Linked DNA regions of Homo sapiens. The protein of the gene in region 1 interacts with the protein of each later gene in a pairwise test. Each region holds a gene or a part of one and is shown in the gene's direction. Other genes may lie near its edges.

What was found. The genes of interacting proteins can lie anywhere in the genome.
Region 2: the proteins of TASOR2 (region 1) and IRF2 interact in binary tests that used the Homo sapiens proteins (3 or more experiments, as listed by UniProt).
Region 3: the proteins of TASOR2 (region 1) and ZNF200 interact in binary tests that used the Homo sapiens proteins (3 or more experiments, as listed by UniProt).

The regions. Positions count from the first base shown.
Region 1 is NC_000010.11:5,743,388-5,750,919, forward strand, and holds part of TASOR2 (protein TASOR 2), read left to right. Parts: intron 1-2,791; coding exon 2,792-6,640; intron 6,641-7,532.
Region 2 is NC_000004.12:184,464,448-184,471,979, reverse strand, and holds part of IRF2 (interferon regulatory factor 2), read left to right. Parts: intron 1-7,532. UniProt on the Homo sapiens protein: Specifically binds to the upstream regulatory region of type I IFN and IFN-inducible MHC class I genes (the interferon consensus sequence (ICS)) and represses those genes. Also acts as an activator for several genes including H4 and IL7.
Region 3 is NC_000016.10:3,232,056-3,239,462, reverse strand, and holds the start of ZNF200 (zinc finger protein 200), read left to right. Parts: upstream 1-4,304; 5' UTR 4,305-4,476; exon of another isoform or gene 4,477-4,948; intron 4,949-5,626; 5' UTR 5,627-5,707; coding exon 5,708-5,957; intron 5,958-6,541; coding exon 6,542-6,630; intron 6,631-6,915; coding exon 6,916-7,042; intron 7,043-7,407. UniProt on the Homo sapiens protein: Localizes protein arginine N-methyltransferase PRMT3 to the nucleus.

The DNA.
Region 1 (7,532 bases):
AGTTCTAAGCCCTTCACTCATATTAACTCAGTTCATTCTCAAATAAGTTAAAGACTATTAATCTCCCCATTACATAGATGACGAGACTAAAGCATAGAGAAGTAAAGAAATTGCCTAAAGTCACATAGAAAATTGTCAAGCCAAGATTCCAGTCTAGAAAACCTAAATGTTAACTATGTATGTGCTTTTTTTTTCCCCTAAAGATGGGGTTCAGCAGTTCCATCCTATTCTCAAAGAATTACATAAAATCCAGTTAAGAATCACCACCTTAGAATAAGAAAATATAGTCTAGTCAGGGAGATTTAAATTAATACATATATACATGCTAGTTTCTTATAAAATACCATTTGTCGTGGTAATATGTAATTAACTATCATCAGTACTAATTTTAGCAATGATTTTGGCAAGCCTGACTGTTCAAATCAGTGATTCCTAACAATCTCCTTAGTATGTACTTACGTAGGCTTTTGTTTTTTTGTCATCTTGTTGAATGCTGTGCCTGTACTTGAAAGGCACACGTGTGCTATCGCACTCCCTCCACCAGTTGGCACACTGGAATGTGAAGAAGAGGATTCTAGCATGATAGGCACTAGAAACCAAAAGCATGTTGCTGCTAGTCATGTGTTGAGTTGAGCACTCTTTCTGAATTGTCAGACTTTATTTTAGAAGCATTACACTTTACCTGTAGTAAAAATATATCGAAATAGAAATATATCAAGATTGTCACTATTTGCATTTCACTAAGACTACAGTCATGGTGAGATTTAGGACTGAGGCTAAACGTTACCAGCCACATGATTGGGAGGGCCATTAAAGTTCTCAGAAGGACACTGACTCTCAAGACTTTTCTAATACTTTGTTCTCTTAAAACTCTGTTGTCTCAGCCCCACACTGTTGACTCTGTTTTTTTGTTTTGTTTTGTTTTGTTTTGTTTTGAGAAGTCTCACTCTTGTCTCCCAGGCTGGAGTACAATGGCACGATCTCGGCTCACTGCAAGCTTCACCTCCCTGGTTCAACTGATTCTCCTGCCTCAGCCTCCCTAGTAGCTGGGATTATAGGCGCCTGCCACCACACCTGGCTGATTTTTGTATTTTTAGTAGAGACAGGGTTTCACCATGTTGGCCAAGCTGGTCTATAACTCCTAACCTTAGGCAATCCACCTGCCTCAGCCTCCCAAAGTGCTGGGGATTACAGGCGTGAGCCACTGCCCCCAGCCAGAAATGGTTGGTTGGTTTGTTTGTTTTGTTTTGTTTGAGACAGAGTCTCGTGAGCCACTGCTCCAGCCAGAAATGAGTTTGTTTGGTTTGGTTTTTTTGAGACTGCAGCCTCCGCCTCCCGGGTTCAAGTGACTCTGCCTCAGCCTCCCGAGTAGCTGGGATTACAGGTGCATGCCACCACTCCTGGGTAATTTTTGTATTTTTAGTAGAGACTAGGTTTCGCCATGTTGGCCAGGCTGGTCTCGAACTTCTGGCCTATAGTGATCCGCCCACCACAGCCTCCCAAAGTTCTGAGATTACAGGCGTGAGAAGCCGTGCCCTACCTAAGACAGAAATGTTTTTAACAAGAGATTTGGAACACAGTTCCTGATTTCCAACATGTATGCTTCAAGACATGGCACGCAGTTTGTGAGCATGGTGTTCCCAGCATTGCAGAGGGGTGTGATCAGTTGTATAATCAGTTCATTTTATTATATGCTCGACAAGGCCATGCTTGAGGCTTTAAATAAAACAAAAAACAAATACCACCCTGTTTATGAGGTTATGAGAACTGTCCTGAGATGATAGCTCTGCTAATGTTTAACCTAAATCCTGCTTGCTACTGTTTAAATCAGTGCCTTTAGTTCAGTTTATGATTGCAAACTGCATTGATAAAGTTTTCAATTGCCATGTACAATAGGTATTCAAATGAGAAAGAATCTCCAGTTTCATGCAAAGAAGATAGCTAAGGGATGAGGGGCCTTTGTTGACTAGAATCAATGTATTCTGAGTACAGGGGGTAGTAATTAATTTACTCTGTTGCCTCATGGGAAAGTTTCAGATGATGGTGTACTTATGGTCTAATTGAAAACGGATGTTAAAAATGTTATTTGCTTTTTAAAAATTATCTTTTAGGCTGGGCACAGTGGCTCACACCTGTAATCCCAGCACTTTGGGAGGCCGAGGTGGGTGGATCACTTGAGGTCAGGAGTTTGAGACCAGCCTGGCCAACGTGGCTAAACCTCATCTCTACTAAAAATACAAAAATTAGCCGGGCATGGTGGCATGTACCTGTAATCCCAGCTACTCGGGAGGCTGAGGCAGAGAGTCACTTAAACCCGGGAGGCAGAGGTTGCAGTGAGCCAAGATCACTCCACTGCACTGCAGCCTGTTCGATAAAGCAAGACGCTGTCTTGAAAAAAAAAAAATTAATCTCATTTATTAAAAACAAAATTGAATGCTTTTTCTCTAGTGCTACACTTCTGGATTAAGCGGTGCTAAGTAGCAAACAGGCTGCATTTAAAGTCTTTTAAATTGTCAGTGGTCTAGTTATTTTTCTTCCAAAAAGCTTGGAGCTCTCTTCTGTGTGTGGTTTTAAAGAAAACAAATCCCACTGGGGGGTATTTTAAGTCTGCCTTTAAAAGAGGGACTTGCTTGATTTGTACCCTGTGATATTCTTTTAGCTAGAAAATTCAGAAGAACATTCACAAACTAAAATTAATTTTTATCTTTTCTGTTCTTCACATGTACATATAATCGTATAAAAAACATTTTATATGACTGATTTTTTTTTTTTTTTACTTTGGCCGTTTCAGGTAACTGGGGAAGAAGCTAAACAAGAATCATTGGAGACTTCTAATCTTGTGCTTTCGGGTATTGGAAGTACACAAACTAATGGACCTTCTGTTCCTAGTGAAGAAGAAATTGTTCAGCCACTGGATAGCACAAGAGTGGCTTCTTACAGTGGCACTGTTACTCAAGCCACATTCACCAGGACTTACGATGGGCCTGGCAGTCAGCCAGTGATATGTCAGAGCTCTGTGTACGGCACCCTTGAAAACAAAGTGGATATTCTTGATGCAGCAGTGCAAACAAAAACAGGTACTTTACAGGACCTTATCCAACATGGCAGCCCCATAAACAATGAATGTCACCCTTCCTTGGAAAGAAAGGATGATAATATGGGGTGTGCAGTGATTAACCCGGAACCAATTACTCTCACCTTTGAAAAAAATGCACATGTACCAATACAGACAGAAGGTGTAAATACTGCTGATGAACGTACAACCTTTAAGAAGGAGTTGATTAAGCAAGTATCACCTGCTGCAAGCCTTAGACATCCTGTATCCACCTCGGAAAATGCACGAACACAAGGCCTGAGGGACATTCCCTCTCTAGTAGTTGCAGGACAGAAGGGCACTAAGTACCTTTGTGCCTCGTCAGTAGGTGGAGAGACACTTGATAAAGCAGTGTGTTCATTACAGAAGGAGACGCCCCTTCCAGTCTCTCTACCATCTGATAAAACAATGGTCATGGAGGCACTATCATTAGCTAAAAGTTCTAGTCATCTATCACCCAGTGAAGAAGTGAGATGCACTCAGGATTTCCTTTCACAGACTCAGAGTCTCCTCGGCCTATCTTCAGAAGGGCTTCTAGAACTGACACAGGTTGAAGTGGACTCATCATCAGCCTCTACCACCTTGGGAAGGCAGTGTTCACTTAACTGCATTTCGTCAGGATGCCACACATCAGGTGACTCTTTAGAACTAAGGAAGAATCACAAGAATGGTCCAAACACTGAAAATATGAATTTGGAAGCGTTTGATTCAGTATTTATCAAACAAACAAGCCTGTCTGTGAGTAGAGAGGTCAGCCTAGAGTTATCAGAGGAAGATTCTGACATTGACTTAGCTCTAACAATATCACCACCTACAAGTCCCAGAGAAGAAATGCCAGCTGGTGAAATAGAGCAATTTGAGGAGGCCCCATTCTCAAATTTAGAACTTCAGGATGTAGCTGAGGAAATAGGTGAACCGGAAGAGGTGGCTCTCACAGAAAGCAGAGAAGTGAGTTCTGCTGACAATGTGTCAGTATATCCCTCAGTGTCAGAAGAACCAGTAGAAAATAAGGAGAGAAAGGGGGATAATTTACAACCAGTTACTTTAATACTTTCTAAAGAAAATTGCACCCTTGAGATTGCAGAGGAAATTAATGTGACCTCTGATTTTCCCTTTGATTCTGTAATTGAAGAAGTATCACCAGCGTCTAGTCCTGAACCTCCAGTACCAGTTAAAGAGACACGACCATATCAGGCTGTGACTCCATGCATTTTAAAACTTCATGGTACACAGTGTGAGAAGAGCAACCAAATCTCCCAATGTGAGTCAGAAGACTTAGGCATAACAGAAAAAGAAAATGTTTTTGTTGGTCCTACCCATCCAGTGGGGCAAGATAACTTTACCCAGGTACAACAAATGCAGGTCTCTGCCGAAATGCCTCTAATATTAACTGATCATCCAGGAAGAACAGGTAGACCAACCCTTCCTGGTAAAGTAACTGAGGAAATTGTCTCAAGTGAGCATGATGAGGGTTTATCTTTCTCAGGAAAGGTGCAGTGCTATGGTAGGGAGTTAAACCAGCCTGCCTCAGCTGCCAAATGCACAGGTGACTTCAGTCCTTCTCCTGAAAAACTGGTAAAATCAGGAAATCCATTGCAGCCAGTTAGTATAGAGAATAGAAATTTGGACTTAAAACATCTTGTCTTGGAGTCCAGTGAACCTCCATTTGGTCCTAGAAATGTTATTGAAAATAAGTCTTTGTCTGACACATTGGTTTCCACAACTGCACCAAGTGGTATAGTGAATGTGTCAGTAAAACAGCAGACTAGCCCTAAAAGCAGTCAGAACCATCTCTTTCCCGGTGATTTGAAAACAGATGAAGGCATTTATCTGCAGGTGAAGTCCTTGACAGCTGCCTCGGTTGATGGAGCTTATTCTACACAGGGATGCATGTGCTCAGTGGTCCCCACGCTTTGTTCTTCCTCAGACAATGCTACATTAACCCATTATGTAAGACCAATAAATGCAGAGCCAGTGTTTCAAGCACAGGAAATACCAGCAGGCAGAATGGCCAGTTTGCTTAAGAATGGTGAGCCTGAAGCTGAGTTACATAAAGAAACCACAGGTCCAGGCACTGCTGGCCCTCAGTCCAACACCACATCTTCTCTAAAAGGTGAACGCAAAGCCATCCACACGCTGCAAGATGTGTCAACATGTGAAACAAAGGAGCTATTGAATGTCGGGGTTTCCTCCCTTTGTGCTGGTCCCTACCAAAATACAGCAGACACCAAGGAAAACCTCAGTAAAGAGCCTTTGGCCTCCTTTGTTTCAGAATCCTTTGATACTTCTGTTTGTGGAATAGCCACAGAGCACGTAGAAATTGAGAACAGTGGGGAGGGGCTCAGGGCTGAGGCTGGTTCTGAAACCCTAGGCAGAGATGGAGAGGTCGGTGTGAATTCCGACATGCACTATGAACTCTCTGGAGATTCTGATCTAGACCTGCTTGGTGATTGTAGAAATCCCAGACTGGATTTGGAGGATTCTTATACTTTAAGAGGTAGTTACACCAGGAAAAAAGATGTTCCCACAGATGGCTATGAGTCGTCGTTGAACTTCCACAACAACAACCAAGAGGACTGGGGCTGCTCTAGCTGGGTTCCAGGCATGGAGACGAGCCTCCCTCCCGGGCACTGGACTGCTGCGGTAAAGAAAGAAGAGAAGTGTGTGCCGCCTTACGTCCAAATCCGAGATCTCCACGGGATCCTCAGGACTTACGCCAACTTCTCTATAACAAAAGAACTCAAAGATACCATGAGAACTTCACACGGCCTGAGGAGGCACCCGAGTTTCAGTGCAAACTGTGGCCTGCCCAGCTCCTGGACAAGCACTTGGCAGGTGGCAGACGACCTCACCCAGAACACTTTAGACCTGGAGTATCTGCGTTTTGCACATAAACTAAAACAGACCATAAAGAATGGGGATTCTCAGCATTCTGCCTCCTCTGCCAATGTCTTTCCAAAGGAGTCACCAACCCAGATCTCCATTGGTGCTTTCCCTTCGACAAAAATCTCTGAGGCCCCATTTCTGCATCCTGCACCTAGGAGCAGAAGCCCCCTTCTGGTAACAGTTGTGGAGTCAGATCCCAGACCACAGGGGCAGCCCAGGAGAGGCTACACAGCCAGCAGTCTGGACAGCTCTTCCTCTTGGAGAGAGAGATGTAGTCATAATAGAGATCTTAGAAATTCTCAAAGAAATCACACTGTTTCATTCCACCTCAACAAACTGAAATACAACAGTACTGTGAAGGAATCTCGGAATGATATTTCACTTATTCTCAATGAGTATGCTGAATTCAACAAGGTGATGAAGAATAGCAACCAATTCATTTTCCAAGACAAAGAGCTAAATGATGTTTCTGGAGAAGCCACTGCTCAAGAGATGTATCTGCCTTTCCCAGGACGGTCAGCCTCCTATGAAGACATAATCATAGACGTGTGCACCAATTTGCACGTCAAACTAAGAAGTGTTGTGAAAGAGGCTTGTAAAAGTACCTTCCTGTTCTACCTTGTCGAAACAGAAGACAAATCATTCTTTGTAAGAACAAAGGTAAAGTGCCAGCCACGTCTTACGTATTATTTTAATTGCTGATTTTAGTTTTAGAAATAATAAATTTAGCATATTAGCCATCAAAAAGAAATCATGGTATGACATAGTATTTAAATTTCACAGCTTAGTCTTTATCTGCATACTAAATGTTTTCCTGCAGGATCTGCCATTTGTACTATATTTGAAAATTAGTATTATGTTCCAGAATTAGGGCAATGACTAATTTTTTTTCACAAAAAGTTACCAGTGTAGACATGCCCATACTTCAAGTGTAAATACAAACACATTCCGATGTTAAAATACAGATTTTTTGAAAAGTGGTTGTAGATTGTCCGTTAGTGTGGGTGGTCAAGTAGGACCTCTTTTGGTTTTGGATATATTTTTAATTTGAATTTGAATGTTAGGATAACTGATGTTACGGTGAGTACATGGAGTACATAGTCCTTAAATTTAAGTAATGGAACCATGGTGAAATTCTGGCATGGGCGGAGCCTGTCTTGATTGAACCTGTCTTGATTCACCATTAACTTCATTGTTTTATCCTCCCAGAATTTATTTCTCTTCTATTTCGGGCATAGACAGTATTTTTAAAAATTTAATTGTTTTTAATTTCAAATTTACATAAAGGTTGCAGAAATAGTACCCTTTACCCAGATACCCCAATATTAACATTTCTGAACCATTTGCAAATGTGTTGCACACACAGTGTCCCATTACCTCTTGATACTTAAATGTGTATTACCTGAGTTCAAGGATCCTCATCTTTTTAACCACAGAACAACCCTGTGCATCAGGAAGTTCATATAATATTAATTAAAGTGACCATCTCCATTAACCTCATCTAGGTCTAGGATCATAGGTGTCTAGAATTGTCATGTCTTCAGTCTGCAAT
Region 2 (7,532 bases), on another chromosome or scaffold:
TCTGTTACGATTTGTAACTGCTTGTTAAAATTAAACATTTACATATTTCATTCTCAGTGAGTTGTCATTTTTTTGTTAGAGAAAGTTCCAGTTATTTCAGATTTACTTACCTGTAAAAATGTCAGCATAATCAAAAGTAAGGATCTGTAGTCAAACTGGAAGCAAATTATGGCAAACACATGCGTGCCATGAAGTTCTGACAGCCTTATGAACAATGGTCCCACTTTTATCCCACTTTCTGAAACACTTTATTAGGCAAATAGTGCACCAGAGCAAAAGATGTTTAAACTTACTGGAAAAATAGACACTTTGGATGCTCCACATTTGATGTGCATCAATTTTCTCATGTTACCAACGATGTTATATTTTTATTCTTAACATCATCTCGTACAAAACTGTTGTTTTTAGAGCATTTTCACATAATATCCTTTTGATAGTGAAAAACCACTGTACTCTATCTAAATGGAGTATCTGGGTTATAGTTCCCTTATCTGCCTTATACCAAAAAGGGCTTAACGCAGACAAGAGAATTTATGTACACACTCAATAAATATCCTTAGAACATCTATTATAAGCCAGACACAGTGCTAGCCTCTGTATACTCAACTGACAGCGAGAAAGACAGCATCTTTACACTAGGTTGTGTTCTGGTGAGTGAGCTGACCATTAACAACAAAAAATATAGTTATTACCTTTTGGGGTTAGCTGTAAGGAGGATAATAATAATTTTTAACTATATCTCGTAAGTGTTGCTTTCATGAACAATTGAGATACTGTATATGAAAGAACATTGCATAAATTATGGCAGTCTACAAATGTGTAAGGCATTAACTTTCAAAATTATATCAGATTATTCTTAGTGTAAAAAGGCCAGATAATCATGACTGGATTAGACACTATCTTTCTCATAGAATTTCCAGCAAGGAGGGATTTTACTTCTGAGCATATATAAATAATGATAAAAGATTAAACATGGAATAACTTTTATATAAAGTATCAAAAAAATTTCACAGTGGAATCCGATATTGTCAGTGAATTTTTTCCTGTCAGAAGGAAAGTTAGGTGGTATCCATGGAGACCAAATGATATGGAAATAACAGTGATTGGACCAATGTATTTTCCCTCTTTATGTCAGATAAGAAAATCTTCCCAAGCCTCTCTGTGCTTTAGTCTGAATCTTCTTCACTCTCGTGTCAACTTCTTCATTATCTGTCATTGCAGGTGTGCACTGGGCTGATTGTAGTATTTTGCTTTTACCACCTTTTTTTTCTTTTCTTTTTTTTTTTTTTTGAGGCAGAGTCTTGCTCTGTTGCCCAGACTGGTGTACAGTGGCACACTTTCAGCTCACCGCAACCTCTGCTTCCAGGTTCAAGCAATTCCTGTGCTTCAGCTTCCCGAGTAGTTGGGACTACAGGTGTGCGCAGGCGTGCGCTACCATGCCTGGCTAATTTTTGTATTTTTAGTAGAGACGGGGTTTCAGCATGCTGGCCAGGCTTGTCTCGAACTCCTGACCTCAGGTGATCTGCCCACCTCAGCCTTCTGAAGTTCTGGGATTACAGGCATGAGCCACTGCGCCGGCCTGCTTTACCATCTTGGCTCATGTGCATTTATTGAATGCTTACTGTGTGCCCAACACTGTATATGTGACAACATACATGAAAGTAAATATTAACTGATAGCATATATTTATAACATATATTACAATACGTAATATATGCAAATAAACGAAACTGCGGTGAAATGTCAGTTATTATTAGTAAAAATTAGTTCTTCTTTTCATCTGTATGAGACATGATGTTCCTTCCTGCACAGGGGTAGGAGGTCAGGACCTTCGGTCTCTGCCTGCCCCGTCGGCCCCCTGTGTTTGGCCTGAGTGTAATCAGTGGTCGGTGCACGATGCCAGCTTCATGCACAGTGTGCTGAATTGAGGAGTGGCTCTGGTGGCGGGAGTGACTGATGGAAAAGTGGGTGAGGAAGTTCCATCAAACTTTAATTTATCAACAAAGAACAAAGAATGATGAATAACATATAGGGTCCAGATTTGAACATGAAGACAGTATTTTTTATAGAGTACCAAGGAAAACACACAAGCAGGAAACACAGCTCACAGGTCCCCTTTGTCCCTGGGACTCCGTCTGAGGCTCGTTGGATTCAGAGCAAGCAGCAGGCCTGAAGTCTTGGCATTGACCTTCAAAGATCCCCTAAAAATAATTTTCCCCCTCAGAAGCTCCATCTTATGACAAACTGTCTCTGAAACAAATTGTGTTTATTTAAGTAGACTTCATGTATCCTTTTTCTTTTATTAGAGTCAAAGTCTCACTCTGTCCACCAGGCTGGAGTGCGGTGGCTCGATCATAGCTCACTACAGGCTCAAACTCCTGGGCACAAGTGATCCTCCTGCCTCAGTCTCCTGAGTAGCTGGGACAACAGGCATGTGCCACCCCAAAGCCCGACATACATTTTTGTGTAGAGACGGGGTCTCGCTATGTTGCCCAGACTGGTCTCAAACCCTTGGCCTCAAATGATCCTCCCTCCTCAGCATCCCAAAGTGCTGGGATTATAGGCGTGAGCCACTGCACCCGGCCCTAGTGCCCATTTTTATTCCTCAGAAACACATATGACTTCCAGTCAGAACTCCTGATTGCCTTGAGAAAACTGGTATCATCAAATCTCACTGAACTCATTATAGCCAAAGGTAGAGACCCGTGGTGTGTTGGACAGGCTGGCCGGCTCCGTGTGAGAGAAACTCACCATCCCGTTAGGCTTTCTGAGGCACTGAAACTAGCCGGGACCCTCCATCAATAACTTGGTCTGCTTGGGGATCCAGGGACCCCATGCAATTATTTTAAATGAATAATTGATTTTGTTAAATGTAGTAACACATGCAATGGTTTTCTTAAATGCACACATTGTGTTATTATTTCATTTGTTTATTAAATATTTCTTGACAGCCAGCTGTGTACAAGGCTCTGCGGTGGAAGGTGCATGAACTCAGATGCCTAGAGTGGCCTTTTAGTTCTCCAATCACTTCCTCCTTTGGAAGTTTTCACTGTAAAATGTGGCTGGATAATTCTGTCATCCTCAGGAGACAGAACCTGTGTGTGTTGTGAAAATCACCTGGGGAGGGGACTTTTAGAAATTACACGGGACCTTTTAGATTTGAGACTATCTGTAGCCCCCTTTCCCTTCCTTCCCCTTCCTGCCTTGATAGCGAGCCTCTTATTCACCATTGGATCCCTGCTCCCCAGCCTCCCTCAGGTGTGTGGCCAGAGTAGAAATGGAAAGCCACTGAATCGAGGATCTCTTCCCAGGGCCAAATAGTTGATCTTTTCCTTGGCTCAGATGAAACCTCTTTCCACATTTTAAAAAGCACTTCGGACAGGGGCCTGTGGTCACTCTGTTGGCTCTGCCCACTTGCCCTTGCTTGCCATACAGAAATGGGACTCATGTTAAGTTTGTGATACATTGAATTTTCCTTTTTTTTTCTTTTTTGAGAAAGAGTCTCGATCTTGTCTCCTGGGCTGGAGGGCAGTGGTGTGATCTCGGCTCACTGCAACCTCCGCCTCCTGGGTTAAAGTGATTCTTCTGCCTCAGCCTCCCGAGTAGCTGGGATTACAGGCATATGCCACCACGCCGGGCTAATTTTTGTATTTTTAGTAGAGATGAGGTTTCGCCATGTTGGCCGGCTGGTCTCGAACTCCTGACCTCAGGTGATCTGCCCGCCTCAGCCTCCCAAAGTATTCGGATTACAGGTGTGAGCCACCGCGCCCAGCCCAGTTTTCCATTTTGAAGAGGCAAGAAGGACTTTATTTTATTTTATGTATTTGTCTCTTTGTCCAGGAAGGCCATGGAGAATTAGGCGTTTGGTTTTGTTTTGTTTCTATTTTGGTTTATAACTCCTTTATCAGTTTAGTATTCCCTTCTGATAAGCAAGAAAGAGCGGAGTTGACAAAGAATGGCTGCAGATGAGAAGCAGGTGTGTGAGGTTCCTTCTGATGATGGATTCTAAGTATTTTTATCCCAAAGGCAAGACTAATTTAGTTCAGCAAAATACCTTAATTTAGGATTTTGTGTGATAAAAGCCTGTCCTGTTTTCATTAAATGACGATTTTTGAGAATTAACTACTTGCTGTGTGATTTTCATAAATAATTTCATTTGGGCATACTTAACACTGTTGCTATCTGCTGAAGGCATTTGATACTCGCACACCTAATGCCATCAAAGGAGAGATGAGTATACACTTTAATTTGTTCTTATTGAGTGTACATTTTAATTGTTCTTATGAATGTCAGATTTTGGGAAGATCCAAAGAAGTACTCTGTAGACAGAATACGCTGTCCTGGCCCCCTAAGCTTAGAATCCTACCAATTTTCCCATTTCATGAGATTGACCTTTCAGATGAGGAGGGACTGCATACAAATTGCTTTATTTCAAGTAATATCTACCATGTTATTTTTGAAAGAATTCTTTTGTCCTTTTTACCCTAGATCTATTGGAAAAGATGAGAAAAATTACAGTGGTGATAAGAGTGTCTTAACACCTAGATATGATGGGTGTGTCGGGTGAAAGGATAGCAATGGGAGGCTGGTGGAAAGTGAGAGTTGGGGGATGGGGTGATGAGAAGGAAAATAGGTGACTAGTGACTCCTGGATTCTTGAATGGGAGAGAGTGAAGAGACAATCAGGCAGGGAGATTTTCTGTCTTTGCATAAATGTCACTGAAAGAGTTTTAGAGATCGGAGGGGTGAGGTGAAGTTGGTTAGGCAATTAGTGATAACTCAAGGACCAGTTGAAAGACTGGAGGACCCTCCACTGCTGACTGTGGGATCAGATCCTTTTATCCTGGGGATGAGAAAGGCTGATGGGAAAACTGCTAGGCAGCTGCTGACATTATACCACCAGGAAACATGAAGTTGTGAGTAGTTGTCACTTGGACATGGCTGAAGTCACCTTAGGGTACAGTGATGTTGCTGCATCACAACGTTTAGGTCATCAATGGGCCATACACATGACTGTGGCCCCATAAGATGATAATATCATACTTTTACCTTTTGCTATGTTTAGATACACAGATACTTGCCATTGTGCTACAGTGGCCTACGGTCCTCAGTACAGTAACCTGCAGTACATGTTTGCAGCCTGGAAGCCATAGGCCATACCATAAACCTGGGTGTGTAGGAGGTTATACCATGTAGGTTTGTGTAAGTACACTCTGTGATGTTCACACAATGACAAAATTGCTTAATGGTGCATTTCTCAGAATGTATAAGTGTGCTGATGTTGATGCATTGTTTGGGGATGGGGAAACTGATACTCACTATGTGAGGCCCCAAACTCAATCTAAAATTGCCTTTGGAGGCAACCACGGAAATACGGTAATAGCTCTCTTAGGCCTTCTCCCCCCGTACTGATCTTCCTTGGTACTGTTTTATTTTATTTTTAAACTCTTGAAATAATACATAATAGATGTATGTATTTTCAGGGCACATGTAATAATTTAATGCATTCATATTTGTAATTTGTAATGATAAATCAATGTAATTGTGCTATTGAGATTGTGGGAGGTAAATATGGAATCAGGGAAATAGAATGGGCTGATAATGTGTTTTCCTAAAGAACAGATGGGATTGGCCGTGCGCGGTGGCTCACGCCTGTAATCCCAGCACTTTGGGAGGCCGAGGCGGGCGGATTTCCTGAGGTCAGGAGTTCAAGATCAGCCTGGCCAACATGGTGAAACCCCGTCTCTACTAAAAATACAAAAATTAGCTGGGCATGGTGGCGGGCACCTGTAGTCCCAGCTACTCGGGAGGCTGAGGCAGGAGAATCGCTTGAACCCAGGCGGCGGAGGTTGCAGTGAGCCGAGATCGCACCAGCTTGGGTGACAAGCGTGAGACTTCATCTCAAAAAAAAAACAAAAAACAAAAAACAACCAGATGGGACAAGTTAAAACTGAACTATGAATTCCATAAGTGGGTAGTGTGGGTCACTGAGTGGGGCACTGAGTACTCCACAGTGACTGTAGTCAGGATTCTACATTGAAATAAACTTTCTGGAATTTACCTTGGTGCTATATACTTAAAGTCTTAAAAATGTTAAGCTCTCTGTTCCAGAAATTCTGCTTCTTGGAACCTACTTACGTGAAGTAACCAGAGATGGGAACAAAGATGTATGTACACGGATGTTTATTGAATTAGCTTTTGTTATGTAAAAACTTGGAAACAAGCTAAATATCCAACAATAGAGACACATTTGAACGAATTACGGCACATCCAGACAGACTATAGGTAGCTTATAAAGCTCGTGTTTTCGAGCAGCGTTTAGTGATGGGAAAATATTTATGATCTATGCTGATTGGGTGGGGAAAAAAGGATATGAAATTGTGCTTCTAGTTTTATTTTTAAAACATATGTGTATATTGGGGTATTTTTAAAAACCTGGAAGAAAACATATCTTTTTGATGGTGAAATTGTGGGTGTTTGGCTTTTTTTTTCCTTCTTGAAACATTTTTGTATTTTCCAAATTTAAAACAGCAAGCACAATTACCAATTACCCTTTTAACCAGAAAAATATTCTCAAGAGAGTGCTAATATGTCATCTCTGCCCTCACCTCTGGTCCACGTAAGGTTAGGAAAAACACACTGGGTGCTGCCGAGGAGGAGGCTGTGCATGGACGGGGCCATTCTCGAGCCTTTCTGCCTCCATGTGTGGAGCAGGCTCTAGAGCCAGGGCTTTCCTGGCCAGGCTCTTGGAAGCCTTTGTCCTCAGACAGCTGTGGCTACTTGGAGACACTTAGATTGGTGGCTTTTTGGTGAGGTTGGGACATAATGTTTTGTCAGTAACTGTGAAGGGCTTGAGATATGATTTCACTTCACAGTTAACATTCTTTATACATATGAATACTGCAGAAACACAAAACCCCTGGGTAGGAGAAAAGAGTTCCTTGTTGATATTTACAACTGGGGCAACAGCCTGAGTGACACTATTGTGTCAGGCCCCTAAACCTTGACCCTTAGGTGACACTGAAAACTAATGGAATGTACATGTGGGCTACACTTTGTTGACAGGGACAGAGCAGCTGTCCCTCTCCCGTCCCAAAAGGAGAGAGAGAGAAAAAAAAAAGAAGAAGAAAAAGGAAAACCAAACAGACAAACACCTTAGCTCCCCTGACATGGGATGAAAAGGTTCCAGGGGTCTTATCCTAACCTTTCAGAATGTGAGACACTTGTAACCTGGGGATGTCTCCAAGGTCTGTTTTTCATGCTTTTTGAAATACACATGCCTAGGGAGATACGTCTTCCCAGCACCTTGGGAACCAAGGTGAAATTATTTGGTCCTCTTGAGGAGATTAGAGGTTTTATTATCCTTTTGGAAAAGAGCATTTAATGTACACAAATGGCTACAGATCTAATTCTCATGGTAAGTGAAGTATAAAATGTTTGTAGGGGAAGTGAGAGTGAACATTCCCTGTCTTCATGTCCTGTATAGTCCCTATCTTCATGTCCTGTACATTCCCTATCTTCATATGCTATACA
Region 3 (7,407 bases), on another chromosome or scaffold:
TCCTAGATGATCAGATACTAAATTAACTCACCTTTCAAATAGTTGTTTTTTTCAACTACAAAAGGAACACTTGTTATTTGAAAATGTATGGATTTATAAAACATAAAAAGTGACAAATTCCTTCTAATCCTACTCCTTAGAGACAACCAATATTAACTCTCTTTCCCTCCCCCCCGGCCAACATTTCTAGAAAGCAACTGTTAACTCTTGTTATTGTATATTCCTCCAGTTAAAAAAAAAAAAAAAAAAGCCTAGGCTGGGGGCGGTGGCTCACACCTGTAATCCCAACACTTTGGGAGGCCGAGGCGGGCAGATCACGAGGTCAAGAGATCGAGACCATCCTGGCCAACATGGTGAAACCCCCGTCTCTAGTAAAAATACAAAAATTAGCTGGGTGTGGTGGCGGGCGCCGGTAGTCCCTGCTACTCAGGAGGCTGAGGCAGAAGAATTGCTTGAACCTGGGAGATGGAGGTTGCAGTGAGCCGAGACCACGCCACTGCACTCCAGCCTGGGCAACAGAGCAAGACTCCATCTCAAAAAAAAAAAGCCTAACATTTTATTTTTAAAACGACTTATTATACATACTGCTTTATAACTTGCCTTTTCACTTAAAGTATCTCTTTTCAATGGTTCTGTTGGCTTCCACTGTATAAACATATCATGATGTAACCTTTTTTTTTTTTTTTTTGGAGATGGAGTCTCCTTCTGTCACCCGAGCTGGAGTGCAGTGGCAGAATCTTGGCTCACTGCAACCTCCAACTCCCTGGTTCAAGCTATTCTCCTGCCTCAGCCTCCCAAGTAGCTGGGATTACAGGCGTGTACCTCTACACCCAGCTAATTTTTGTATTTTTAGTAGAGGCGGGGTTTCACCATGTTGGCCAGGATAGTCTTGATCTTCTGACCTCATGATCCGCCCACCTCGGCCTCCCAAAGTGCTGGGATTACAGGCGTGAGTTTTTCTTTAAAATGAGTTGAGAATTGACCATTACAAAGTTTATGAACAGTTTACTTCTTAAAATAGGAAGTGTCATATTGCCCTCTTAAATAATTGTATTAATTTGCTTTTAGAATACTGAATATTATTTTTGTAATTATTATTTTAAATTTCATTTCTTTAATTGTATGTGACAATAGCCATCTTTTCATGTTAAAAGGCATTTATAGAGATACATATTGTGTTTACACCCTTAATTTATGGTATCATTTCAAATCCATTTATGTCATTTATTTTACGGATTAGATTCTAAAAACAGGATTCCATCAAATTGTTTTAAAAAATCTTTTTCGTTCTTTTTTTTCCATCAAATTGTTTTAAAAAATCTTTATCGTTCTTTTTTTCCATCAAATTGTTTTAAAAAATCTTTATCGTTCTTTTTTCTTTTTTTTCCGCCCCCACAAGATGGAGTCTTGCTCTGTCACCCAGGCTGGAGTGCAGTGGCATGATCTCAGCTCACTGCAACCTCTGCCTCCCAGGTTCAAATGATTCTCCTGTCTCAGCCTCCTGAGTAGCTGGGATTATAGGCATGCATCACCACGCCCGGCTAATTTTGTATTTTTTAGTAGAGACGGGTTTCACTATGTTAGGCTGCTCTCGAACTCCTGACCTCAGATGATCTGCCCACCTCAGCCTCCAAAAGTGCTGGGATGAGCCACCATGCCCGGCCTATTGTTCTATTTTTTTTTAAGGTTTTATTATTTTTAGTTACCAAATTGACGTGCTCATTAAATGAAGTGACACAATAAAAAAAAAGTGTAATCTCTCCCTTTTCTCCATTTCCATTCCCTCCCTCTGAGTAACCATTTTATTTTTATTTTACGTATTTATTTAGAGACAGAGTCTTACTACTCTGTCGCCCAGGCTGGTGTGCCTGTCACTCAGGCTGGAGTGCAGTGGTGCGATCTTGGCTCACTGTAACGTCCACCTCCACCTCCTGGGTTCAAGCAATTCTTGTGCTTCAGCCTCCTCCCAAGTAGATGAGATTACAGGCACCCGCCACCACGCCCGGCTAATTTTTGTATTTTTAGTACAGATGGGGTTTCCCCATGTTGGCCAGGCTGGTCTTGAACTCCTAACCTCCAGTGATCAGCCCACCTCTGGCTTCCCAAAGTGCTGGGATTACAGGCATGAGCCACTGCGCCTGGCCATCCCATGAGTAACCATTTTAATAATCTATTGTGTATCCCTCAACACAAACATACACAAGGTGTTTTGTTTGTTCCAAAAATATAATTATGCATAATATATGTAGCTCTGAAACTTTTTCATGTAATATTTTATGGCCATCCCTCCAGGTGTACATATAGTTCCAATCCATTCTTTTTCATAGCTGGGTAATTTCCAGAGTATGAATGCACCAATTTACTCCTTTCCTTACGTATGAACATGCATGTCATTTCTAGTTTTTGTCACTACAAAGAATTCTACAAGAAATTTGTAGACATCAGATTCACAGATGAGATTGTGAAGGTCAAAGGGTACATACTTGTACTTTTAATTTTAATATATATTACAAGATGACTTCACACACCACACTACCAGCGAAAGGAGTGCCTATTTCTCCACCTTCATTGTTTGATAGGTGAAAAATGTGGTTCCCTTTAAAAGTGATAATCTTGACTAGTAGTGTGGTTAAGCATCTTTTTAAATGTTAATGACCAATTAGTTTTCCTCCTCTCGGGAAGAGCTCCTCATTGCCTTTGCTTTTTGTCAGTTGGCAGGGGTTCATTTTGTCTTAGGAATGTATAATCTTTTGTGTAGCTAATCTTTACAATTATCTTCCAGTCTATTTCTTGTTTGTTAACAGAGTCAAGAAAAAGTTCTTAAAAAATACAATCACACAGGTTTATATTTTACTTCAAGACATCTCAGTTATCTGTTTTGCCTCATAATTCAAACCATAATGCTTTGATTAACGGAGGCTTTTTAGTAAATTTTGATCTGAAAAGGCAGATATTCCTTATTTTTCTAGAATGTCTTGGTGCCACACAGTTTTCATACTCGTTTCTTTGTAACATATTTTAAGCCATCGTCAGCCATTAGTCAGGTATAATTAACTTTAAGAAGAGGCATTCATTTATATTTTTACTTTTGTCAACTTTCTGGAGGCTGGTATTACATCGAGAAATAAGGCCATCCCTGCCCACAAGTTGTCCGAACCCTGATCAGTGCGTCACTGGGGAACGAACCGAGTGTGGATACAACGCACAAACACAAAACTCTGTTCGGCCTCCGTAGGAAGCTGAAATTGAGAAAGGAAACCGAGACAGTAGGAGAAGGGCAATTAAGATGTCTTTAAAAACAAGACGGCCGGTGCGGACAGCAGTGTAGAAGTTAGCAAGCTGGAGTGGGCAATGTCGGTGCCCCATCTCTAACCTATGGGAGTCACCAGAGCGGGGGCGGAGTCCCATGGCGGCCACACCCTGTCCGCCTCCGCAGTCTTTTTACTGGAGAACCGCAGTAAAAGGCGGAAACCGCGGAGGCGTCTTGATTTTCCGGTCGGAGAGATAGCTTGCTTCCTTTAAGCCTCGGGGTAGGGGGGTGGGGAGGGTAGGGGGGTGGGGAGGGTAGGGGGGTGGGGAGGGTAGGGGGGTGGGGGGGTGGGGAGGGTAGGGGGTGGGGGGGTGGGGAGAGTAGGGGGGTGGGGAGAGTAGGGGGGTGGGGAGAGTAGGGGGTGGGGGGGTGGGGAGAGTAGGGGGGTGGGGAGAGTAGGGGGTGGGGAGAGTAGGGGGGTGGGGAGAGTAGGGGGGTGGGGAGAGTAGGGGGGTGGGGGTTGGGGGGTGGCGCCGTGGGGGGTGGCGGGGTGGGGGGTGGGGGGTGGGGAGAGTAGGGGGGTGGGGGGTGGGGAGAGTAGGGCGGTGGGGGAGTGGCGGGGTAGGGGGGTGGCGGGGTGGGGGGTGGGGGGAGCGCGGGCGCTGGGTGGGCGGGGGGTGGGGCGGTGGGGGGGCCTGCCCCGCCCCAACCGCCGCGCCTGACGGTCGTCCATTGGTTGTTTGCATTCGAACTACATTTCCCAGCAGGCCCTGGGGTTAGACTGGCCGCAGCTGGAGAGGTGCCAGCCCGTCGTGGATGACTAGAGCCAACCACCTGCCTTCCGTCTTCCAGGCAGAACCACAGAGAGGCTACAGCCGTCCTGGCCTCCCTCCGGCCCTGAGAGCTCCTCTGGCCTGTCTCAAGTCTTAACGTCTCAAGCGCAGACTGCCGGCTCCGAACGGGGAGACCAGGCTTCTGCACCGGAAACAAGGCACCGGTTGTGACGTCACAGCCGCAGAGCGCCCGACTTCCCAGAAGGCACCGAGTCCCTGCCGTTCTCCTCAACTGGCGGCGGCGCGAACGAATAGTCGCCGGCGACCTGTGAGGGCACTCGGAAGGGCGAGGGGAGGGCTCGACCGCTCGCGCCTAGTTTTTCTATCTCTCCCGGAGCCTGAGTCTCTGAGCCGTCCCCAGCAAACGCTCAGGGGCTGCAGAGGCCCCGAGAGGTGAGGGGCTCCGTGAGGGCGGGAACCAGGCTGAGGCCGCCTCTGGGGAGCGGAGCGTGTCCGTTGCTGAGGGAGCAAGGCCGGGTAGGGAGCCTGGTGAGCGCCTCAGGCAGGGGCGCACGCTGAGCTTTACGGTAAAGGTGTTCCTTGACCAGCGGAAGAGGCCCCAGAGTGAGCCTGGCCCGGCGGTCCTTAGTGGGATGTCGCCTGCCGCTCTCAGCAGAGCTTTGACGGCGGAGAGGAGTCGGCAGGCGGTGTGTGGACACCTCCTCGGCCTTGCATCTGCTCCCCGGGAGAGTCACCAACCGCCTCCCCGCCCAAAGGGCACCGGAGGGAGCTTCGGTTCGAGGGGTACAGTATGGCCAGATTCAGTGACCAACCTGCTTTTAGGCAGATGTCCTCGGTATTGACCCCAGATTTCCTGTCTTCTAGCCCATTGCTCTTTCTCCAAGCCTGATTTAACCTATTCCTGGTGGGTTTTACACACCGTCTTTCTTTCTGTCTTTTCTTTCTTTTTCCTTTTATTTTCTTTCTCTTCCCTGATTCCCTTCCTCCTTCTTTCCTTTCTCTTTTCCTTTCTTTTTTTAGAGTCAGGGTCTTGCTTTGTCGCTCAGACTGCAGTGCAGTGGCGCGATCACAGTTCACTGCAGCCTCGACCTCCTGGGCACAAGCAATCCTCCCAGCTCCCCAGTAGCTGGGACCACAGGCTTGTGTCGCCACGCCCAGCTAATTTTTTTTTTTTTTATGGAGTCGGTGTCTTGCTGTGTTGCCCAGGCTGGTCTTGAACTCCTGGACTCAAGCGATCCACCCGCCAGGGCCTTCCAAAGTGCTGGGATTACAGGTGTGAGCCACCGGTACCTGGCCACACTTTGTATTTCTCAGGAGGCTGGACCTTGGCCTTCTCCGCTCCACCCTTACTCCCTTCCCTTTGGACTTGAGGTTTGCACAGTCTCTGTTTTTCATTCTCAGGATCTTCCTTTCACATCTTCCTAAGCATATCTTGTTCAAATACTGCGTTTCAGTTATGATTTCCCTATCCCAGCTGTCGTTTTCTTTAGATCTCATGTAGCCTCACCAGCCATGCCACATATTGGAGTGCAGTAATGCCGTGCCTGGTCTTTTGGGTAATCCCTGGTTTCTCTGTCTACAGCTTGGCTCTCTGGCAGATTTCCTCTAGTAAGAGGTGGCTCTGGAGGCCCCGCGAAACGAGTGTGGTGTGTGGTTGCAAGGCATGATGGCTGCAAAAGTGGTTCCTATGCCCCCAAAGCCAAAGCAGTCCTTTATACTGAGAGTTCCGCCAGACTCCAAGCTGGGCCAAGACCTACTTCGAGATGCCACTAACGGGCCCAAGACCATCCACCAGCTAGTGCTGGAGCACTTCCTCACCTTCTTGCCCAAGCCAAGCCTGGTCCAGCCCAGTCAGAAAGTCAAGGAGACCTTGGTTATTATGAAAGATGTGAGCTCAAGCCTTCAGAACAGAGGTGAGAAGCACATGCTTGTTTCACTAGAAGAGGAGGAGGAGGTACTGGAGTCTAAGATAGGTTTCTGTGTTAGTTATAAATTCAAGTTAGGATGGTGTATATTGGAAAAGGAGTCAATTCTAGTGTTGGAAAGAGGAAGTTCTTCTCAAGTGCTGGGTGTGAGTAAGGCCACAGAATAAACAGTGTGCATCTTTCTGTAGTGTCAGTTTTACCCAAACATTCTGAGGGAAATATCTTTTAAGGATAAATCAGATGAATTATTGAGTTAGGTTGATGTGGAATTTTAGAAATTTTGTGCTTTTTCTGGGCATCTTCACACTTTACGTTGCCCTAAGCTCTCCTTTAGTAATACTCTATGGGAAATTCTGAAAGGTGCTTAGAGAAGTCATTCTTTTCATAACAGGGAGATGCCATAGGTTCAAGACCCTAGAGTTTATGGCTTGAACTCTATAAGGGCTCACAGGAGCAGAAAAGGCCATGAGTTACCTGTCAAAGGAATGAGGACAGCCTGGCCTCGCGGTATGGGGAGTCTCTGTGTTAGAGTCACTGAGTTTTTCACTAACTAAACCTTCCTCTTTCCCCAGTGCATCCTCGTCCCTTGGTGAAGCTTCTGCCCAAAGGAGTCCAAAAGGAACAAGAGACAGTGTCTCTGTATTTGAAAGCTAACCCTGAGGTGGGTTTGGTTTTCCCATTTACTGCCTGAATCCATCACCTTCCGTGCTTGGCCAACCTGTGTGTAAAAACACATTCTTAGGAGTTGGCCTTCTTGGGTGTTTTTCTTCTGCTTTTTCCTTGAGCCCTTCTCAGCCTGGCTGTCCTGTCTTTGCTGCACCTCTGTGGGATTTATAGGTCCCTCTTGCTATCCCTTCCCTTGATCTTTGTGTGTCAGCTTTTCTTACCAGTAGGGCTGTCAGTGAACCTCAGTTACTAAGATGAAAGGGGCCTCTTGCTCTTTCAGGAGCTGGTGGTCTTTGAGGATTTGAATGTATTTCACTGCCAGGAAGAATGTGTGAGCTTGGATCCTACTCAACAACTCACGTCAGAGAAGGAAGATGACAGCAGTGTCGGGGAAATGATGTTACTGGGTAAGAAATCACAGCCTTTGTGTGTTCAGGTTGTTTGCTTTGGGAAAAGCATGTCCTTCATCTCTTTAGCTTTGGGGGACGATTCACACCTGGTAAGCCTATGTGCACACACACATTTTATTTTACTTTTGTTTTATTCAATGTAGCAGAGCCTTGCCACAGAACTCCAGCTGTGGGTGGGTGGCCATTTTTCCCTGTATCTTGGGGGCAGTGAGGGGAGAGGTAGGGAAAACCTGCAGACATAGAAACTGTGGATATAGAAACTGTTCTGAACCCATTTTCTGAACTCTGTTCTCAACAGGTATATTTGAATGTTTTCATTGAACACATGACTAACTCTTGTAATCCCCCTCCCCTTTTTGATG